3 linked regions of the Homo sapiens genome follow. The protein of the gene in region 2 purifies or fractionates together with the protein of the main gene of each other region. This does not show direct contact. Each region holds a gene or a part of one and is shown on either strand. Other genes may lie near its edges.

Region 1 (7,097 bases), on a different chromosome or scaffold from region 2:
AGCTGGGCAGCAGGCTGTCCAGGAGCTCAGCGTCCCCACCTCGGCCACTGTCACTGCTTCCTGCTAAGTCCCCTCCCCTAGCCCCAGGGAAAAGGGAGGGATGCCCAGACAAGCCTTTATTGCCCAACCTGAAACCACTGGGCAGCCACTCCCTCATTCCTGCCGTCCACAACTCCTGCGACCAAAAGGACAAAATAGCAAGAACACAGCAGAATAAATAACTACCAGGTTTGCAAGGCTGAGAAGGCATCACACACCGCCCCTACCCGGAAGCTCCGGAGCCATTCAGGGAGCTGGGCTGACTCTGTCCAGACTGGGGACAAGGGGTATCACATCTATTCTACTTGGGCTTCTGAGTTCATCTCTAAGAATAACAAAGGGGGCCAGGAACTTTACAAGTGAGGTGATTTGCCAGACATCACATGAATAGCAAGTAGCAGAGGCAGAATTTGACACCTAATACCCCAGCTTTAAATCACAGCCTCTGTCTGGGGCTTTGCAACAACTCTCAAATCCATTTTTTGTTCCCTGGCACTCACAGACAGAGCCTTACTTTACAAGGTACTTGGTATCTACCAAAAGTGCCATACACCATTATCATGATGGCTATGAGGCAGAAGAGGAAACTGAGGCATCAAGAATGGGAGTAACCTGCTCTAGGCCTCACTCCCAAACTTCAGTTCCTGACAGTCCTCCTGCTGGCAGGGCTTGGGGCTTGTGAGTGTTCTTGAAATCAAAGCGATGGTGGTAGGAGCGGGGATGGGGCGCATACAGAACCCCGCGGGTTTGATTTCACGGTGGGAGAGGGAGGCAAAGTTGCCGCAGGACATGGGGGAGAAGTTGGGGAGGATGGGGTGGGAGGTCGCCTTGGGCGTCCTTTCGGGAACGGGGAGGTCAAAGCTAAAGCTGTGCCCTATGGCCCCGGAGCTGCAGGGCGAGGCCCAAGCGCTGGCCAGTGGCCGGCGCGAACGCTGGAGCCACAGGAGTTCCGGCCCGAGACACCGGAGCCAGCAGCAGGGCCGCGAACGCGATGCCGGGGAGGTCAGTTGTCTGCGGCTGGCGACCGTGAGGAAGCGGCTCCGCTCCAGCACGTGTCTCGGCTCGGATCCCGCCCCGGGCGTCTCCCGGCTACCCGGAGCCCGCGGAGCAGCCCCGCCGGTGGCGAGGGCGGGGGAGGTCACCCGGAGCAGGGCCCCGAAACTCCGCGGGAAGGGGCCGCGGTCTAGGATCCCAGGCCTCAGGGTGGGATGTGGAACACGCGCACGCACACACATCCGACACACCGTCCACACTCCGACGAGCACACGGACACACAAACACAGGCTCCGTATACATACATTCAGCTGCGCGCACACACACACGCGCACGCACACCAAAGACACCAGACTCCGAAACACACCCGGAGAACGCGACCACACAGCAGACAAGCGCGGAGCCACACGCTCACACTCACGCTCACACTCAAGCACACACCTGGCGGTCCCGGCCGGCCGGGAGGCCGCACAAAGTTGCAGGCTCCACCAAGGGAGTGTCCCGGGAGGCCCGGGCGTCCCCCGCGCGTCCTGCGCGCCAAGGGAGGGGGCGCCGTCCCCCGGCGGCGAGCCAGGCCCTGCCCGCGCCCGGACGTCGCAGCCCAGCCCGGGGACAGCCCCCGCCCGGCCGCCCGGGGCGCAGCCGCGGCCCGGCCACCGCAGGAGCGCCCGCCGGTCCGGCCCTCCCCTGCCCGCCCGCCGGCCCCTCGCTGGGGCCCGCTGGCCCGGGCGCCCCGCAGCCCCGGCGCCGCCTCGGATCAGCCGCCCGCCAGCGCCGCGCGGAACTTGCGAAACAACAAACAGTCCGACATGCCCGAGGCGGCGGCCGCGGGGCCCGGTCCTCCCCTGAGCCTCGGGCCCTGCCCGACCCGGGCAGCCCAGGGGGCGCCGCCGCGACAACTTGTTCCGGCCCAGCGCGCCACACACGCGCACACGCACACGCGCGCACACACGTCCTGCCACCGCCCCCTCGGGCGGCCCCGGGACCAGGGCACACTCGCAGCCGCGGCCCAGGCGCGCTCCACACTCGCAACATTCCTGGACGCGCAGCCAGCACACACGGACACATTCGCACACACTCACATCCGTTCCAGACTCGCTCCCACACACGCATTCCCGGCACACTTGGCATTCACTCGGACCCACGCGGCCCCCGGCAGCACACACCACATACCCTAGACACTCCCCACACGTACACAGCGCACGGACACACACGTTCCGGACCCGTTCCCACGCCTTCACACATGTACACGGATCTCAAAAGCACACACGCCACACACGCGTTCCCGGATCCACACTCAGGCGGGATCCAGAGAGCACCCTTGGCCACAGGCATAACACAAACACACAACCCACTCGCAGACACAAAACAAACAGCACTCCCGGCCAGGCATACAAAATGCAAACAAATGCAACACATTAGCAGATACAACTCCCGCAACACAACCAAACTCAGATGCACACACAACCCACTTGGCCACACAAACACTACACACTGGCAGACCCACAAGACACTCAGCGCACACCCAATGCCTCGATGCACACAACATTCACCCCCAACATACTCGCCGACACACATCACCTTTTCTTGCGCACAGAACTCACGGACACACAACATTCGCAGTCACGCAACACCCCGGGCACACAATCGCCCATCCTACGCTCAGACACACACAGGGAGCACGCTCGTAACGCCCGGTCACTCAACACTCACACTTTCTTCCGAGCTACGCCACGGGCCCCGAGGCTCGGCGGGGCAGGCTCGGTCCGGCCGCCGCGCGCTTACCTGCCGGAGTCTCGGTCTCCGGCGCGCAGAGCTGGAAGGTGAGTGCCAGCACGAGCGCCTGGGCACGGGCCATGGTTGGAGCGTCGCCGCCCGTCCCGGGGCCCGGCGCGGGGGACGCCGCCCCCGGAGCCCGAGCCCAGCCCGAGGCGAGCCGGAGCCCGAGCCGGAGCGGAGCGGCGCGGCGCGGAGCGGGACTGGCGCCGAGTCCAGAGCGCGAGCCGGAGCAAGCGGGGCGCTGACGTCAGGCCCGGCCGCGGGTTCGGCGGTCTCGCGGCGCTCCCTGCTGGCCACGGCGGGTGCTGCAGCGGGTCCGGCCGCCCGCTAGCCCTGGCGCGCCCCTCCCCCGCTCCCGCATCCTCCCCGCCATGAGGCCCCGCGGCTGGGTCTGGACGCCCACGGACGTCTCCACGGACCGGGCACCAACACTGCCAGGCGAGCACGCTCATGGCCCACGCCTAGCTCCCGTACAGCGCTCTCAGGGACGGTGACCCAGGGACACCCGGCCTCTGTCCCATCCGATGCCTGAATCCCTTGTACCTTGGCGCCTTCAAATGCGTGTTCTACATACCTCCAGGAACAGGGCGCTCATCACCTGGCCAAGAGCGGTTGTTGGGGCTTTGGAAACGCCGGCTTTTAGAAAGTTTTTCATTTCATGACGTGCAAGTCTACCTCCCTCACTAGCCCTCACTGGTCCTACTCTACCTTCTGGCTACACAGGTTAAATGTATTTGGGCCTCTACCCAGAACGAGCCCTCGCACTATGATCTGCAAACTCGTTGCTCATTACTATGTAAGACCAGGTACCTTCTATGTGTTTAACCCACATGGACTCATTTAATCATCATATATTAGGTATGCAATAATTATACTGCATAAATACTGTTATGCAACAGTATTTGACAGCACCGAGATTTGAATCAAAGTTGTTTGGTTTGAATTGAATAGGGGCTGAGACCTTCCTCCCATCTGGACACCTATTCATTCAACAAATATTTATTGGGGTCTATTCATTTATTCAACAATTACTATAGGCCAGGGTAGAGATATAAAACAGACAAAAATTCCCTACTCTCATGGACCTTACATTCCAGTGGGAAGACAAGAACAGTAAACAACCAAAAAAACAAAAACAAAAAAGCAAACCCTCTGGTGTACGTCCTTTATCACTGTCTCATACACCAGGAAATTTGGGGGTGGTGGGGGGACAGGGAAGGGAAGGGGAATTGTTGCAATTTCAAATAGAGTGCGGGCTATATGATGAGTTCATTATCTGTCTCCACCTCTAGAAATGAGCTCCCTTGGGAAAAGACTCATCTTGTATTTCCGTGCCCAGTATATGGCATGTTTTTATTATTTTATTTTATTTTATTTTATTTCAAGATGGAGTTTCACTCTTGTTGCCCAGGCTGGAGTGCAATGGCGCAGTCTTGGCTCATTGCAACCTCTGCCTCCCAGGCTCCAACAATTCTCCTGGCTCAGCCTCCCAAGTAACTGGGATTACAGGTGCCCACCACCACGCCCGGCTAATTTTCGTATTTTTAGTAGAGACAGGGTTTCACCATGTTGGCCAGGCTGGTCTGGAACTCCTGACCTCAGGTGATCCACCTGCCTCAGTCTCCCAATGTGCAGGGATTACAGGCGTGAGCCACCGCGCCCGGCCTCTGGCACGTAATTGATGCTCAATAAATACTGACTGGATGGAATGAATGAAAGGGAAATGGTCCTAGCCTTCATGAATCTTACATTCTATTAGGAGAGCCCAACAGCAAACATGTACATAAATATATCATTACCATCTAAGATATGCAAGCTAAAGGAAACGAGGGAGTATAATGATAAAGAACATAGGGAAGGGGCATCTCCTTTAGATAAGTGGTCCAAGAGGGCTTTGCTATAGAAGTGACATGGTGACATTTGAACTGAGACCTGAAGTATGAGAAGGAGCCAACCTCATGCAAATCAGTGGAGAGGAACATTGCAGTCAGAGGGGACAGCCTGTGCAAAGGCAGGAGCTGGTGGGTACAAGCAGCTGCAAGGAAGCCGGGCAGCTGGCATGGAGTGAGTCAGGGGCAGAAGGGAGCCAGGTGCAGCTAGACAAGTCAGCAGGGTCTGTAGGTCAGGCAAGAAACTATGAGCAAGGAAGGGGCTTGAGGTTCAACCCTAAGAGTAATTAATGGGAGGCCACTGAAGTGGAGTAATTAAGCAGAGGAGTAATAAGGAGTAATAAGTTCTGATCTCTGGGTTTTTTTTTTTTTGTTTTTTTTTTTTTACAGCTCCAGCTATAAAGACTGCTGAAGTAGGGAAAGCCATGGGCAGATGGGTCTGACCACTGGGCAGTGACACTGAACAAAGCGTAGGAGTTCAAGGTATATGTAGGCCCTCCCTGTGCCCTGCCCCTCCTAGCTGGCTTCATGCTGAGATGGACACACCTTGAAGCTGCCCTGGGGCTGGAGGAGGTATCGCTGGGTTGAGAGTTCCTGGGCTCTTGGTCTCCTCTCTTGTGAGAGCTGATGAGCTCCACACTGAGTTAGGAAAGGGACCAAAAGACACAGCAGGCAAGAATTAGACACAGATAATTAAATAGGGAGAGGGAGGCAGAAGCAAGAAGAAACCAAGGGGAAACCTTAGGGAAGAAACTAAGATACAGAGACGCTGGAGCAGAGAGGAGCCAGAGAGGCCCACCCAGAAAAGGAAACTCAAGGAGAGAAAACCAGTGAACAGAAGAAACAACCAAGGGTGCTGTTTGCAGAGGGCTCTTGAGAGAGCCTCAAAATAGGAGTTTTACCAGTGATCCCATTTTACGGGTGTGGAAACTGAGGTTCAGAGAGCATATGACACTTGCCTAAGGTGACACAGCTAGTAAATAGACGGCGGGCCCTAGATTTGAACCCAGATCTGACTGATTCCACATCCCTTTGCCCTTTGTGCAGGGGAAGATGGCAGAGACTATAATGGAGGGAGAAAGAGAACACAAGCAACAGGTAGACAGATGAGAAGAGGACTTTCTGCTTTACTTTTAAAAGACCACAAACTTCAGCCGGGCACAGTGGTTCACACCTGTAATCCCAGCATTTTGGGAGGCAGAGGCGAGGTCAGGAGTTTGAGACCAGCCTGACTAACATGGTGAAACCCTGTCTCTACTAAAAAAAAAAAAAATACAAAAATTAGCCAGACGTAGTTGCGGGCACCTGTAATCCCAGCTACTCAGGAGGCTGAGGCAGGAGAATTGCTTGAACCTGGGAGGCGGAGGTTGCAGTGAGCCAAGATCGCGCCATTGCACTCCAGCCTGGGCAACGAGCAAAACTCTGTCTCAAAAAAAAAAAAAAAAAAAAAAAAAGACCACAGACTTCTATAATCCTTGAGAGAAGAAGGAAGAAGGAAATTCCTGGCCTGGAGTGACCAGCCCAAATCTAGGGAAAAGGAGATGGCACCACAGACCGTTCTAGGCCATGAGGAAATTCAATTACCTGCAACTCATGGAATATTTATGACACCTACCCTGTGCCAGGCTCATATCGGGTGCTGGTGTTATGGAGATAAACCAAACATGGCTCCAGTCTTGCCTGGAGGGGAATAAATAAGAGACGATGTACTAAAGGCCATAACACAGCTCCAGGGAAAACACAAAGGCAGCAGCAGATGACCTAGGGAGTTTTGAAACATCAAAGAAATGACATCTGAACCTGGAGTTTCCGAGGCAGGGAACAGCATTTCAGGCAGAAGGAGTGGCCTGAATAAAGGCACAAGACACACTGGGGAAGACGGGTATCAGATGCAGCTGGATCACAGGCTATGCACGGTCCAACAGGAGAAGATGAAGCTGGAAATGCAGTGTGGGAGTCAGAGTGCAAAGAATCTTGAATGCAAGTCCAGGAAATTGGACTTGAACCCCTCAGTCAGTAGTTCTCAAACTATGCCCCTGCAAGAACCCAGATGGCCTAGACTAAAAGTGAGGGCTATTGGGATGCACAGGAGGCTAAAGTCCAGCCCCAAGGAGGAGGACTTGCTGGATGATTCTTCAGGCTTCCTGACTGGGCTCCCCAGAAATTCAGAGGAGCCAATTTGGTGAAGAAGAGAATGTCGACATCTCAATGTCACCTAGGGAGTCTTACAACAGAAGGTTACGTTGTACTTCCCAGTTCAAGTAAGCCTATGTGTCACTGGGGAAAAGGGTAAGCAGGACTGGTCATCGTGTGTGTGCTGGCACATAAATGTGGGGCCAAGCCTTTCCCCCACCATGGGACACCAACTTTCTCTAATAATAAAAACAAGTACAGACA
Region 2 (7,114 bases):
CCACTCTAGGAACCAATACTCCCATGTCTGCTGGGAGACACTGCTGGCCCTCACTCAACCAGACCAAGTCCCAGCCTCCTATGCCTTCCCCCTTCTGTCCACTCTACACCTCTGCCCGCCTGCTCCTATACCAATGTGGCCTTCTCTGGCCTTTCCTGGATTCCCTTGGCCAATTAGTGCCTCCTGCCTCTGTGCCCAAAACACACTAGTATTCGCCCCGTGTCCCTGGGGCCCAGCACAGAGCTGGCACAAAAGAGATGTCACTAAGTGGCTGTTGGATGCACAACCTCTGCAGGTCAGCCTCCTAAGATCTCCCAAAAGAATATGACCTCTCCCAGGCCTCTACCCCAGCCCCCTCACCTGCACACTCAAAGAGCAGCTCCCCATCGCTGAGCCGCCATACGAAGGCTTTGTCATCTTCACCCCCGGTCACTGCCAAGGTATTGGTCTTGGGGTCCAGGCTCACACAAAACACAGATGCTGTCCCAAGAGATATTCCATGGGTAAGGGGACAGAGCTCCCACCTAGGGCTCTGTCCTTCACAATCTTCAGGAAACCCACCCCCTTTCACCCAAAGCGTGTCTTTCCTCCTGGAAAACACAGGTACATCCAAGTTCTTCTAAGTTTCAAGAATTGGGTTGTTAGATCCTTCCCATATTTGCCAAGCTCCCTATTTGCCAGAGTAGATCCCCTCACTGTGTGACTCCCGTCACCACCCAACACCAATGCCATGGACAAGAGGTGGGGACAGGTGCAGGGCTTACAGTTGTCAGCATGGGATGCCACCGGGGTTGGGTACAGAGCGAGGAGAGCATCACGTTAAGGGTTTTTTGTTTTTTGTTTTTTGTTTTTTGAGACAGAGTCTTGCTCTGTCGCCCAGGCTGGAGTGCAGTGGCACAATCTCAGCTCACTGCAACCTCCACCTCCCAGGTTCAAGCAATTCTCCTGCCTCAGCCCCCTGAGTAGCTGGGATTACAGGCGCCCGCCACCACAACCAGCTAATTTTTGTATTTTTAGTAGAGATGGGGTTTCATCATGTTGGTCAGGCTGGTCTCGAACTCCTAACCTTCTGATCCACCCGCCTCGGCCTCCCAAAGTGCTGGGATTACAGGCATGAGCCACCGTGCCTGGCAACAGTTTCTTACTAAGAACTAGCACTTGAGAAAGTTATATAAAATATGCTCAAAAAGATATAATTATCTCTCATTTTATTTTATTTTTTTGAGATGGAATCTTGCTCTGTCGCCCAGGCCGAAGCGCAGTGGCACAATCTCAGCTCAATGCAACCTCTGCCTCCCAGGTTCAAGTGATTCTCCTTCCTCAGCCTCCGGAGTAGCTGGGATTACAGGCACATGCCACCACACCCAGCTAATTTTTTTTTTATTTTTAGTAGAGATGAGGTTTCACCATGTCGGCCAGGCTGGTCTTGAACTCCCGACCTCAGGTGATCCACCCGCCTTGGCCTTCCAAAGTGCTGTGATTACAGGCATGAGCCACCGCACCTGGCCAATTATCTCTAATTTTATACTCACTACTTTTATTAACTTTTATCAAAGATAACTTTTTTTTTTTTTTTTTTTTTGGAGACAGACTCTCATTCTGTTGCCCAGGCTGGAGTGCAATGGCGCAGTCTTGGTCCACTGCAACCTCCGCCTCCCGGGTTCAAGCAATTCTCCTGCCTCAACCTCCCGAGGAGCTGGGACTACAGGCGCCCGCTACCACGCCCAGCTAATTTTTGTATTTTTAGTAGAGACGGGGTTTCACCATATTGGCCAGGCTGGTCTGGAACTCCCGACCTTGTGATCCGCCTGCCTGGGCCTCCTAAAGTGCTGGGATTACAGGCGTGAGCCACCATGCCCAGCCAAATTTTTGTATTTTTAGTAGAGACTGGGTTTTGCCATGTTGGCCAGGCTGGTCTCGAACTCCTGACCTCAAGTGATCCACCTGCCTCAGCCTCCTAAAGTGCTGGGATTTCAGGAGTGAGCCACCACGCCCGGCCAAAGATAACTTTTTAAAAGAAAACTAAGAGGTTAATCAAGGTTAACTGGCAAAGTAGAGGGTGTCTCGACTGATGCCAGAAGCCAAGCAATCATCCATTCTGCCACACTTTCCCACCTGTGGGCTCCTCCAGCGCAAGGCCAGCATCTTGCCCATCTCTGTGTCCCCCATAACGTTCTGTCCATGGCTGATGTTTAATGCTTACACGCCCACCTAAACTGATTTGAGGTGGATCGCCTCAAAGACCTACCTGAGTGCAATGCAAAGGTGACCTCGCTATCGTCGGGGCCCTCCATGCTGCCGACCACCCCTTCCTGGGGTTCTAGAACCCAGCCCTCTTCGTTGCCCTCTTCCTCCTCTTCTTCCTCAAAGTCCACATCTTCCATCTCCTGGGCCAGGTCATCTGCTTTGGGGAGAGGGTTAGAAGATGGGGCTCGGGAGGCGGTAAGAGGTACGGAGAGAAGCATGAGGAGGCCTGAGGCTGGGGCGGGTCATGTGGCGAGAAGGGAAGGTGGAGTCAGACACACCGGGGTCCGCGGGGGCGCGCGGGACACAGGACGGGAGGCCACGGCTGGCCAGAGACCGTGCGGTAAGGGAGGGCCAAGGGGATGATGGGAAGGGGGTGTGTGAGGGGAAGGGCCAGAGGAGGCGTCAGGGAACCCCCACCCCAGCCAGGCCTGAGAACTAAGTGTGAGGGTGGGAGTGGGGGAGGAGGGGAAGAGGGATATCGGTAGGAATGACCAGTCGGGTGTGGAGGGGAGCGGGGAAAAGCAGGAGTCAGAGGCCAGGGGTGAGCGTCTCCTGTCCCATGGCCTGAGGAGCGGCAGTTCTCACCTGGGTCCGGCGGACCGGGATCAAGTTCTACCACCTCGATAATCTCTTCATCACCATGGAAGCTTAGGGTCTCCAGTGGGGGGGTGTCAGCAGCAGCCCCGCTTTCCGATTCGGACTCCATGCGGCGCAAGCGGCGGATCCACTTCTCTGGGCCCAAACGCCTCCCAGAGTCAGCTCTGCGCGACGACGCGGAACTCGAGCCCCTCCTCCCGGCAGGAAGTAGGCGTAGGCGACTCCCCAGCAGGAAGAGCGACGGCCGTTCGGCCAATAGCTACGAAGGTTGGCTGGCCGCCTCACCAATCACAGAGCGGCATTGGAAGATGGGGCCGGGGCGTGGCGGAGAGAACCCAAACTCCGCCCCACCTGACTCCGCCCCCAACTGGAGGGAAACAAGCGAGCGCGCGCGCCTCCGGGGTCTCCTGGGAAGAGTAGTTCTCCTGGGTCCGCTCTGCGGGCTTCTGGGAGATGTAGTTTCTGGTCTGTAGGCAGGACGGAAGGAGCGGGGGAGGCCCCTTACGCAAACTACAATTCCCGGCGGGGAGCGCGGTGAAGCGGGGGTGGGATCTGAACATGGCGGCGGTGGTAGCTGCTACGGCGCTGAAGGGCCGGGGGGCGAGAAATGCCCGCGTCCTCCGGGGTAAGGAGAGGGACCCCGGGGAGGGCAGGACTGCAGAAGATCCCTTTTCTTTCACGTCCAGCCCGACGATAGCAGGAGGTCAGGGCTCTTGGTTCCTCCCCACACTTTTCTGCAAGATCTTAGAGTCTGGGGGTGCAGAGATGCTCTTTAGAGGTCACCCAGTGCATCCCCCCGCCTTCGGGTTGCTCGACACCTCCGGGGTCTTGCTGCAAGAGGGAGCTCCTAGGAAGCCTGTTGGACTCCCGCGCTCCAGGTGTTTCACACTCACCGCAGTGCAGAGGAAAGAGCCCCGGGCTTCTGGAGGTTTGAGTTCCAGCCCCGGATAATTAGCAGTTTGACCTTGGGCAAAGCAGTTTTTCTCTCAGGGCTTCAGTTTCCTCTTCCGTACAGTGCAAGGGATGGAGTAGACTATCTTTAAGGTCCCTTCCAGTGCTAACATTTGCAGTTTCAAAACCTTTTCCCGGATTTCCTTCATACGTCTTATGTGAGTCCCACTGCAGTCCTTCCCATGCTGTCGTCTGAGGAAGAACAGCGAAGCTTTTCGTCCTGGCACCAGGGTGATGAGCCCGCAGTGACGTGGAAGTGGCTTCCAAAGGTGCCACCTCGGTGGCGATTTTCCCATTTCCCTTTGGATTCTCCTTGGCACTTCTTACTTCAGACTGCAGTCACTCCCCTTCCCCAGATCTCAGCCGCTCCTCCCAAGCCCTTACTGCCCCCCACCTCCCCGCTTGCTTTCTTCTCATCTCTTCTTACTGACCTTCCTTACCTCCATCCACAGGGATTCTCGCAGGAGCCACAGCTAACAAGGCTTCTCATAACAGGACCCGGGCCCTGCAAAGCCACAGCTCCCCAGAGGGCAAGGAGGAACCTGAACCCCTATCCCCGGAGCTGGAATACATTCCCAGAAAGAGGGGCAAGAACCCCATGAAAGCTGTGGGACTGGCCTGGTGAGTTTTAACCACCCCTTTGCCCACCAACGGGGCGTGGCTTGTAGGGGAGGGCAGGACTTAGAAACTTCTCCAAGTTTCAGGTGGCGAGCTGAATCCAAAGTTGTGGGAACAGAATTGTTGGGTTCGATTGGAATCTCAGAGGGGTGGGGCAGTGGAGGTGGGAAAGTATGTGGAATTGAGAAGACAGTGGGTTTACTGTGGAGTAAGCTGAGTTGATCTGATTCAGACTTGGGTCCCTGGCCTCATCCTCCCTTTTGGGAGCTTGGAGTGAGACCCAAGTTTAAGTAAGTAGTTCGTTGAGATCATGTGAGCTTGTACTAGTTGTATAGTAGTACTCAGAAGGCGTTATGAACATTGTGATTGGGCTCTGACTCTGACCTTAATACATATTATTGACCAATATTAAAGAGAAAGGAGGAAGAAATCAACATTTTTTTCTGCATGTGAGGTGTGCCAGTACTTTGCCATGTAATGTTTTAGTGTTTGAGATAAGTATTACATCCCCATTTCACAGAGGAAGGAACTGAGACTGAGCTAGGATTCTCACCTAGTCTGTGACTCCATGCTCTTTCCCCCATACCAAAGTGCCTCCCAAGCAGTGGTTACTTAGCTTAAGAGGGGAAAACTGGGAGGGTACCTTGGCCAAGTCTCAGAGAGGGAAAGCGTCAGGGCTGCCTGGAAAATCCTGCACAGGTGCTGTTGCAGGAATGCAGGGCTCGTGCTGAGGATCAGGCTCTAGGCGGGAGGAGGAAAGAGGCAGGCAGAGACCCAGCCACACTGGGCCTTTTGTGCCATGTTTGGACTTGGCCAGGAAGTGATGGAGTTACGGGGTTTTAAGCAGGGAAGTGACAGGATCTGATTTGTGTGGGTCCCTCCAGCAGCCAGCACAGAGGATGAATAGACTATAAGAGGTATTGCAGCATTCATGCAACTGATGAAGCTAGAATGACTCCCCCCAGCTCCTCTGGCTCAGGCTTGGCCCCTCCCCAAACCCCGTGCACATCTCCCCACCCGTAGGGCCATCGGCTTCCCTTGTGGTATCCTCCTCTTCATCCTCACCAAGCGGGAAGTGGACAAGGACCGTGTGAAGCAGATGAAGGCTCGGCAGAACATGCGGTTGTCCAACACGGGCGAGTATGAGAGCCAGAGGTTCAGGGCTTCCTCCCAGAGTGCCCCGTCCCCTGATGTTGGGTCTGGGGTGCAGACCTGAGGAGCGCTGCGACCCTCCTAGGCTATTGACTGTTAAGTCCTCAGGTTTGGCCCAGATTCCAGTTCGTGCCTCTGAGGTCCACCAGAGGGCGCATGAAGCCCAGGCTGTTGCCAAACCCTACCCTGCCCCACACCAAGGAGCCAGCCAAAGGCAAATAAAGTTATTGAGTGTTTAGTAGAAAGGAACCAGGTCTGGGTTTGTGAGTCCCTTGGGATGGGAGGGGCAGAGGGTGGGGCTGGTTACTCATGTGTGCTCCCTCTCACAGAGCTCAGTGTTCCCAGCTGGATGGTGGGGCAAACCCAGAGACTTAAGTGCAACCAGCCTAGGCCCCGGGCCCTCGGGACCAAGCCCTCAGAGCTGCCGGCCAGGAGGGTGGGGTCCCGCTCAGCCTTGAAACAATAAAGAGAATCAAAGAAGGTATTCAGGGTGTGGAGGCAAAAAAAAGCACTGCTCTTTACTGAGTCCAAATGACTCGACTCTGGGCCTCAGTTTCCTCATTTGTTTTGTTTTTTGTTTTTTGTTTTTTGAGACGGAGTCTCGCTCTGTTACCCAGGCTGGAGTGCAGTGTTGTGATCGTCAGCTCACTGCAACCTCCACCTCCTGGGCTCAAGTGATCCTCCTACCTCAGCCTCCTGAGTAGCTGGGACCCCAGGTGAGTGCCACCATGCCCAGTTACTTTTTGTGTTTTTTTTTTTTTTTTGGATTTTTTTTTACTTATTTTTTTTTTTTTTTTTTGAGACAGAGTTTCACTCTTGTTGCCCAGGCTGGAGTACAATGGCATGATCTCAGCTCACTGCAACCTCCACCTTCTGGGTTCAAGTGATTCTCCTGCTTCAGCCTCCAGAGTAGCTGGGATTACAGGCACTCACCGCCACTCCCAGTTAATTTTTTTTTTTTTTTGTACTTTTAGTAGAGATGGGGTTTCACCATGTTTGGTCTGGCTGGTCTCAAACTCCTGACCTCAGGTGATTCCCCCCCACCGCCCTCGGCCTCCCAAAGTGCTGGAGTTACAGGTGTGAGCCACCGCACCAGGCCCAGTTTCCTCATTTTGTAAGATGGGACTGGAGTTGACATGGACTGAACCTGCAGTCCATCCCCTCCTCCATCTGCAAAACTGTAGGTATACATACAGCTCTTTGAGGAAGAGAGTTAGCTCTCATGAGCTTTTGGAAAGGGTCCATGGTGCAGAAAAGGTCAAGCACTACAGCCAAGAGGTCTCTTCCATATCCAGTGATCCAGTGTGATAGGGTTGAGCTCTCCCTTTCCCCACCCAACTCCTGAGCCTTCACTAGTCTATTGCATCCGTCCCCGGAAACTGCTGCAGTAAAGTGTATTTGATTACCTTGGAAAAGGTGGGACAGCCCAAGCCAGAATGCAGAAGGAAGAAGTGGATACTTTGGGCAGAGCCACACATACTCCTGGAGCCATACAGGGTTTTAACTTCTAGACATAAACTTTATTACATTTATAGTTGTATCCCTTTGT
Region 3 (7,022 bases), on a different chromosome or scaffold from region 2:
GCAGATGCTGGGCTTTGATCTTTATTAGACTAAGTGCTTTATCAGAATAACCAAACTAAAAACCGCTTTTGATTTTATGGGGTTAGAGGACAGTAGTGGTGGAATGATCCAATGAAGAGATCCTAGCATCTTTTCAACTGGTAGCTGCTTAGGCTTAATAGAGAAGAAAAATAAGATTTCAATCTACTCTGACAAAGAATGGAAAAAAATGGTACATAATTTTTACCTGCTGCCAGGATCTAAGAGCATCATTGGTCAAAATGCTTTCTTCATTTCGTTTCTTTTTTTTGAGATAGAGTCTCACTCTGTCGCTCAGGCTGGGGTGCAGTGGTGCAATCATGGCTCACTGCAGTCTCAACCTCCTGGTCTTAAGGTGGTAATCCTCCCGCCTCAGCCTCCTGGGCAGCTGGGACTATAGGTGCACACCACCATGCCAGGCTAACTTTTTTTTTTTTTTTAGAGATGGGGTATCACCATGTTGCCCAGGGTTGGTCTCGAGCTCCTGGCCTCAAGCAATCTTCCCGCCTCGGCCTCCCAAAGTGCTGGGATTACAGGTGTACGCCACCGTGTCTGGCTGATTTCTCTCATTTCTAATGCTAGGGCAGACAGACAGCACTGACTACGACTGTGGAGTTCAGTCTTCATTATTCTAAATGACCCAGCAATCTATTGCCTAGATACCATATCCACTCTCTGTCACAGATCCATGAAGAAGCACTTCTACCAGAAAGTTACATTGAAATTTGTAGATAACTTGTTATTTTGACATTTTTTATCATAATTAATGTGGGGGCCCAAACTTCTGAGGGTAACAGTAATTCAGCCAAGCCACTGAGTAGATGATATACAAAAAGAGACAAATGAAAATGGACTGCGTGAAACATCAGATCCAAGCAGCAGAAACACAAGGACAAGGAAGGAGTAAAGGTGTTACACACAAAGAGCCAAGCAGGGCGTACTCAGAAATCGGGTCCTCCTGCCACCAGGTTTGAATGTCACCTGTTCAGATGCACAGTTAAACTTCGCACAGCCTGTGAGAGGGGAAAAACAGGGTAGAACAGAGAGAGGAGAAGAGACAGAACACAACTACAAGATGTTAGAAACTTGAGGCTGGAGTGGTGAAATGCACTAAGATGGCACACAGAAGAACAAGCTTCTGGGGGGAAGGTCAGATATGTAAGAGATGAAATATTAGGTCTTAATTCTACCCATCTGCAAAATGCGGAAGCTTTTCTTAGTTCGAATAATGCTAGCTAGTTTGCCCTCCTTACCAATCAAGTGCATTCTTCCTGTGAAGAGACTGATCTCTAATTTCTGTGAAACTGTGGCAAAGGCACATAAGCCAGTACCTATATTTTTTTCATTCTTCTCACCCAGATGCCCAAGTCTTTTCAATTCTTGTTCTAATATGACTAAAAGCTCTTTCCTCTGTGGGAATTTTTTCAGCAATCACTAATAAACAGAGCTATATTTGGAAAGTAGATTATGGATAAAAAACTGAATTGTAAGGTTATTCATTTTAGTATGCCACTCCCATACTTAAAAGTAACAAAATTCTACAATGGCTAAGAAAATGTATTAGCTTCAGAAACTGCTAAAACACCTTAGAATTTCATCCAGGAAATCTCAGCCTAATATTAAAGCCTAAGTTCCAAATCCCAAATGAGCAAGTCATATAGGCCACACAGATGTAACTTTTCACTGTAATTCCTTGAAAAAAAGTAATTTCACCTAATGGGAGCAGTGAGCCCACCGATTCTCATTATCACTCCACTTCCCTTTTCACCCAGATTCTTCAGTGTACAACACACAGGCTGTGTTCTGGTCAGCTAGTCTCCCAACCCGCCTTAACAGGCTTTTGTCCCAGGTATGGCAACATCTCCATTTTATTGTTTTTGGACGATGATGGTTGCTTTATTACCTTGACCTGGAGCAGAAAGGCTTGGTACTGAAATGGCACCATCACTGGTGAAGGCTGAATAGAGGTTGTCACTGGAGGGAGATGGCTTAAGGGGCTGTAACAGCTGATTCTGCCCGGACTCTGGGATGTTGCCAGGAGGGTGGAGGGTCTGCTGGGGGTGCAAGACTGAAGCTGCACTCTGACCAGACAGGTTACCTGCCAAAAGATAAAGTGGCATGAGGAAACATGTCCAGCTCTTCCCATGCACTCATCAGGCACTGTTCTTATACATTTGGTTTGTTCCACTGAGTGATGAATGATGGGTCAAAAGCTACAAACTGATGAGAAGAACAAAGTCCTCACTAACGGGAGAAGTGAGGAATGACACTAAGACTCAATAGATAGGCTGGGTGTTGTGGCTCACGCCTATAATATCCCAGCACTTTGGGAGGCCAAGGTGGGCGGATCACCTGAGGTCAGGAGTTCGAGACCAGCCTGGCCAACATGATGAAACCCTGTCTCTACTAAAAATATAAAAATTAGCCAGGCGTGGTGGAGGGTGCCTATAATCCCAGCTACTCAGGAGGCTGAGGAAGGAGAATTGCTTGAACCCAGAGGCAGAGGCTGCAGTGAGCCGACATCATGCCACTGCACTCAAAAAAAAAAAAAAAAAAAGAAAAGAATCCATAGGTAATAGGGCCATATGTACTATTCCAGAGCTTTTTAGCTTTAGAAAACCTAGATGGGCCACATGTCTGAGCAGCGTAAGAAGACCAGAGTACCTAGTGGATACCCAGATTCCATTCTGCAATTCCATGATTGCTTTTTTTTTTACCCTATTAGAAAATGTGTTGAATCATTATACAAAAAGGTTTGCTAGGCAGTCTCTGCTTAGACTTTCCTATAAACGTGCATCAGAGCAAATACAAAAGAGGTGTTCAAAAATGATGGAGGTCACTACAGAGCAATGGGTGTTTAAAATTATTTTTGGTAGGTTGCTTTCAATAGGTCGGTTGTCCTAAAATTGACTCTCTGCTCCCCGGTTCCCAGTTGAATTCAAGTCCACTCAAAAAGTATGTCAAAATTAGGATTAGAATTTGATTAGGATCATAGCTGGGCATAGTGGCTCATGCCTGTAATCCGCACTTTGGGAGGCTGAGGCGGGCGGATCACCTGAGGCCAGAAGTTTCAGACCAGTCTGGCCAACATAGTGCAACTAAAAATACAAAAATACAAAAATTAGCCAGGTGTTCTTATACATTTGGTTTGGGATTACATGCTTGTAATCCCAGCTACTTGGGAGGCTGGGGCATGAGAATTGCTTGAACCTGGGAGTTGGAGGTTGAGCCACTGCCGACTCTGCCTCAAAAAAACAAAAACAAAAACAAAAAAGATCTGATTGGGATCAGATCAGAAATTAGCTGATTTCTCTTACAATCACATCTCTACTAATGGGCTGCATGAACTGGCCCTAATGTGCTACATTTGGATATCTGTGAACCTTTCCAGAGAATGGAACTGCTAAGAAGTTTGCAACTGCTTTTTAACATATTTTAACCTTCTTTTACTTTTCAACTAATTGTGTTAACACTACCATAATTTCACCAAAGGATTAGAAACTCTCTATCTATCCCAATTAAAATATAGTCCAGGGCCGGGCACGGTGGCTCACGCCTGTAATCCCAGCACTTTGGGAGGCCAAGGTGGGTGGATCACCTGAGCCAGGAGTTTGAGACCAGCCTGGCCAACATAGTGAAACCCCATCTCTACTAAAAATACAAAAATTAGCCAGGCATGGTGACATGTGCCTGTAATCCCAGCTACTATGCGGGGCTGAGGCAGGAGGATCACTTGAAACTGGGAGGCGGAGAATGCAGTGAGCCGAGATCGTGCCACTGCACTCCAGCCTGGGCAACAGAGCGGGATTCTGTCTCAAAAAAAAAATTCAAAGTTAGCAGGGCATGGTAGTGTGTGCCTGTAATCCCAGCTACCCAGGAAGCTAAGGTAGGAGGACCACCTGAGCCTAGGAGTTTGAGGCTGTTGTGTTGTGTGCTATGATCACACCACTGCACTCCAGTCTGGGCAACAGAGTGAGGCCCTGTCTCTTAAAATAAATAAATATATATATATACTACATTACAAAAGAGTATCACTTAACTATTTCTTTGATTTTAATGACTAGCAAGTTCTTCTTTTTTTTTTTTTTTTTGAGACAGAGTCTTGCTCTGTCACCGAGGCTGGAGTGCAGTGGTGCAATCTCAGCTCACTGCAAGCTCCGCCTCCCGGGCTCATGCCATTCTCCTGCCTCAGCCTCCTGAGTAGCTGGGACTATAGGCGCCTGCCACCATGCCCACCTAATTTTTTTATTTTTAGTAGAGACAGGGTTTCACCGTGTTAGTCAGGATGGTCTTGATCTCCTGACCTCGTGATCTGCCTGCCTCAGCCTCCCAAAGTTCTGGGATTACAGGCGTGAGCCACCGTGCCTAACCAATGACTAGCAAGTTCTTTAACCCAATATAAATGAAATAAAAACCTTAATCAAGAAGTTACCACTTAGACATACACACAAATATCTATATGACGATTACATTCATCTAAGTTGCAATTATGACTAAGTCATCCATTAAAACAAAGAATCTACCCAAGTTTTACTAAACAGAGAATAATGTATTTTCTTCCAACTGCCCAAGAGTTTGGTTAAATGTGAGTTATACGAGTTAACAGGCAAAGCTAAATGTCTATCCTTAAGAATAACTATAAATAAAGATTACCAGTAGATAGCAATATGGATTACAATGGAATAAGCCATTGTATTCACTAAGTCTACTTCTATAGACTCAAAAAGAGGTACAATAAATGTAAGTACAGCAGTCAAGGAAGCAAAAATATCAGGAGAGCCAAATTCCTTTGAAATTTAACAAAAACAACAAATGTTCAGCAGGTCACATACAGCTGGAGACAGAAACAAAAGATAGGACAGCTGTGGCTGACCTAGTCCAGGGCTTTTTACCTGAAAGCTGGGGGCTTTTATTCCCCAAGGAACTGCTTCGACTAGATTTGCTGCCTTTGCTTTTAGTGGGTCGTCGTCTTCTCCCTGAAAGGGGAGCAGCTGGGGGAATAATAACAGCAGGGGGCACCTTGCCCAGTTTGGTATACAAAGATTCAATTTCATGCTTCTGGCGACTCTGCAGGTCCTGAATCTCTTTGAGATGTCTGTGAAAGATAACCAAACATAATTCAAAATACCATAATCCTCTTCATTCAGACAAGAATTAACAGCATATTCCTAAACCTGCTTTCAAGTATGTAGTAGTTACTAATGAACCTTTTCCCCAAATGTACTACCACGAGATTCTAGTTTGTCAACTCACCTTGCTGGCCTGCATTACCCAAGCCATGTTCCAACAAGCTCCTAGCCAACAACAAATGGTTGATAATGTTTTAGGAGAAAAACATTTCCTGACTTTTGAGGCCACGCACACAATAGCTGAATTTGCTACTCTGACCCAATCTGCCAAACAAAACGTGCCAAATAATCATACATCCCAGTGCCAGATTCATTTAGTGGACTAATAAATAAAGAGCAGTTAATAGTGATACAATATGCTATTAATAAAAATAATAATACAATACAGTAACAATAATACAGTAATAATATAGTAACAATGAAGAAGTTCTAGAACTAGAAATGCTATGGGTCTGTATGAGTGCAAGAGAAGCTGCCTGTGCCTGTGAGTCAGTGGTTGGGAATCGTGTGTGTGTGTGTGTGTGTGTGTGTGTGTGTGTGTGTGTGTGTGTGTGTGTGGTGGGGAGGTATGGGGTGGGGCTTCTGTGGCACTGTCTCTTTAAAAGAAATGAGACATTAGCATATTGTGGCGAAAAATATTATTAATCTTGGCCCTGGGATCTAGGTCTGAAAACCTTATCTGACATTCTTTCACAAGAGAAAATATACTTACTTATCTCGTAGTCGTCGCAGCTCTAACTTTAAGTCTTCATCTTCGATATCTGACTCATTGTCGCTACTCATGTAAGAGGAGTTAAATGAATTACTAAGGCTTTGACTTAGATTCTGGCTAGGAAGGCTCTTTGAGCTCAGCTGATGGGGCGAGTGTGGACTACCGGAACCATCATCCACATCCCTACTTAAAAAAGCGGCCTCCGGGTCAGAAGACGGCCCATTTAGATGTGAAGGCTCTGACAGTTCAGGCTTCTCTTTCTTTGGTATCACAGCAGGAAGAACAGCTTGTTCCAAATCCATAAAAGGAGGAGATGCCACTGGTCCTTCTTTCTTTGTGTCAGTGATCTTGTCCTCAGTTTTTGATACAGAGAAACGACCCACTTTGTTTGCTGTAGTTGTCACCTGAAAACGTCCAACCTTGGTAGGCTGCCCAGTGTCTGACTTTGCCTCTGAGGCAGTAGTTTTGTGGGCACTCTCTGGCACATCTGAAGAGATACCAGGGATGGTTATGCCATTCGGCTCTGGTTTCACCAAGGTACTCTCTGGACTACTACTTGATAGCACTGAGGACTCTGAGGTGCTGGATTCAAAATGAACAGACTTTGCATCTTCTGACTTATTTTTACCCTCTTTCTGGGCACCGTCTGCTGCAACAGAAACCTGATAAAAAAGGACAAAGATTAAAAACTTAAGTTCTCAATATCCAATTTCTATCACAGACAATTTAAAAAAGGAAAAAAAGAATCACTTTATTTCCCTGTCAAAGAGTAGGCTGATTGTCTCTTTACATAGCGCCTCCACTTTTGACTAGGAAGAAAAATTGAATACCATCATAGAGAACACATGGGTACTGAGATGCAGATTCTGTGTGGCTGGCTACGCTTATAAAGTAAATAATTTACTTTCGTATTTGATGTCATACACAGAATTCAGATTTATGTCTTAGTCAACATATACATAACAAAAGGTCAGGGCCAGGCATAGTGGCTCATGCCTGTAAGCCCACCATTTTGGGAGGCTGAAGCAGGTGGATCACTTGAGGTCAGGAGTTTCAGATCAGCCTGGCCAACGTGGTGAAACCCTGTCTCTACTAAAAATACAAAAATTAGCCAGGCATGGTAGCGTGTGCCTGTAATCCCAGCTACTTGGGAGGCTGAGGCA

What was found. Proteins that work in one complex are often made in the same cells at the same time.
Region 1: the proteins of AAMP (region 2) and PTPRU purify together in Homo sapiens (affinity purification with mass spectrometry; 4 studies listed by BioGRID and IntAct, with this or other methods). This does not show direct contact.
Region 3: the proteins of AAMP (region 2) and WNK1 purify together in Homo sapiens (affinity purification with mass spectrometry; 3 studies listed by BioGRID and IntAct, with this or other methods). This does not show direct contact.

What each region holds. Positions count from the first base shown.
Region 1 is NC_000001.11:29,232,438-29,239,534, reverse strand, and holds the start of PTPRU (receptor-type tyrosine-protein phosphatase U isoform 1 precursor), read right to left. Parts: upstream 3,014-7,097; 5' UTR 2,891-3,013; coding exon 2,818-2,890; intron 1-2,817.
Region 2 is NC_000002.12:218,267,134-218,274,247, forward strand, and holds the start of AAMP (angio-associated migratory cell protein), read right to left. Parts: upstream 3,005-7,114; 5' UTR 2,954-3,004; coding exon 2,833-2,953; intron 2,405-2,832; coding exon of another isoform or gene 2,402-2,404; coding exon 2,249-2,401; intron 481-2,248; coding exon 361-480; intron 1-360. Other genes in the region: probable thioesterase PNKD isoform 1 precursor, read left to right, coding at 3,403-3,469, 4,248-4,416. UniProt on the Homo sapiens protein: Plays a role in angiogenesis and cell migration. In smooth muscle cell migration, may act through the RhoA pathway.
Region 3 is NC_000012.12:895,570-902,591, reverse strand, and holds part of WNK1 (serine/threonine-protein kinase WNK1), read right to left. Parts: intron 6,522-7,022; coding exon 5,860-6,521; intron 5,114-5,859; coding exon 4,911-5,113; intron 2,117-4,910; coding exon 1,922-2,116; intron 1-1,921. UniProt on the Homo sapiens protein: Serine/threonine-protein kinase component of the WNK1-SPAK/OSR1 kinase cascade, which acts as a key regulator of blood pressure and regulatory volume increase by promoting ion influx.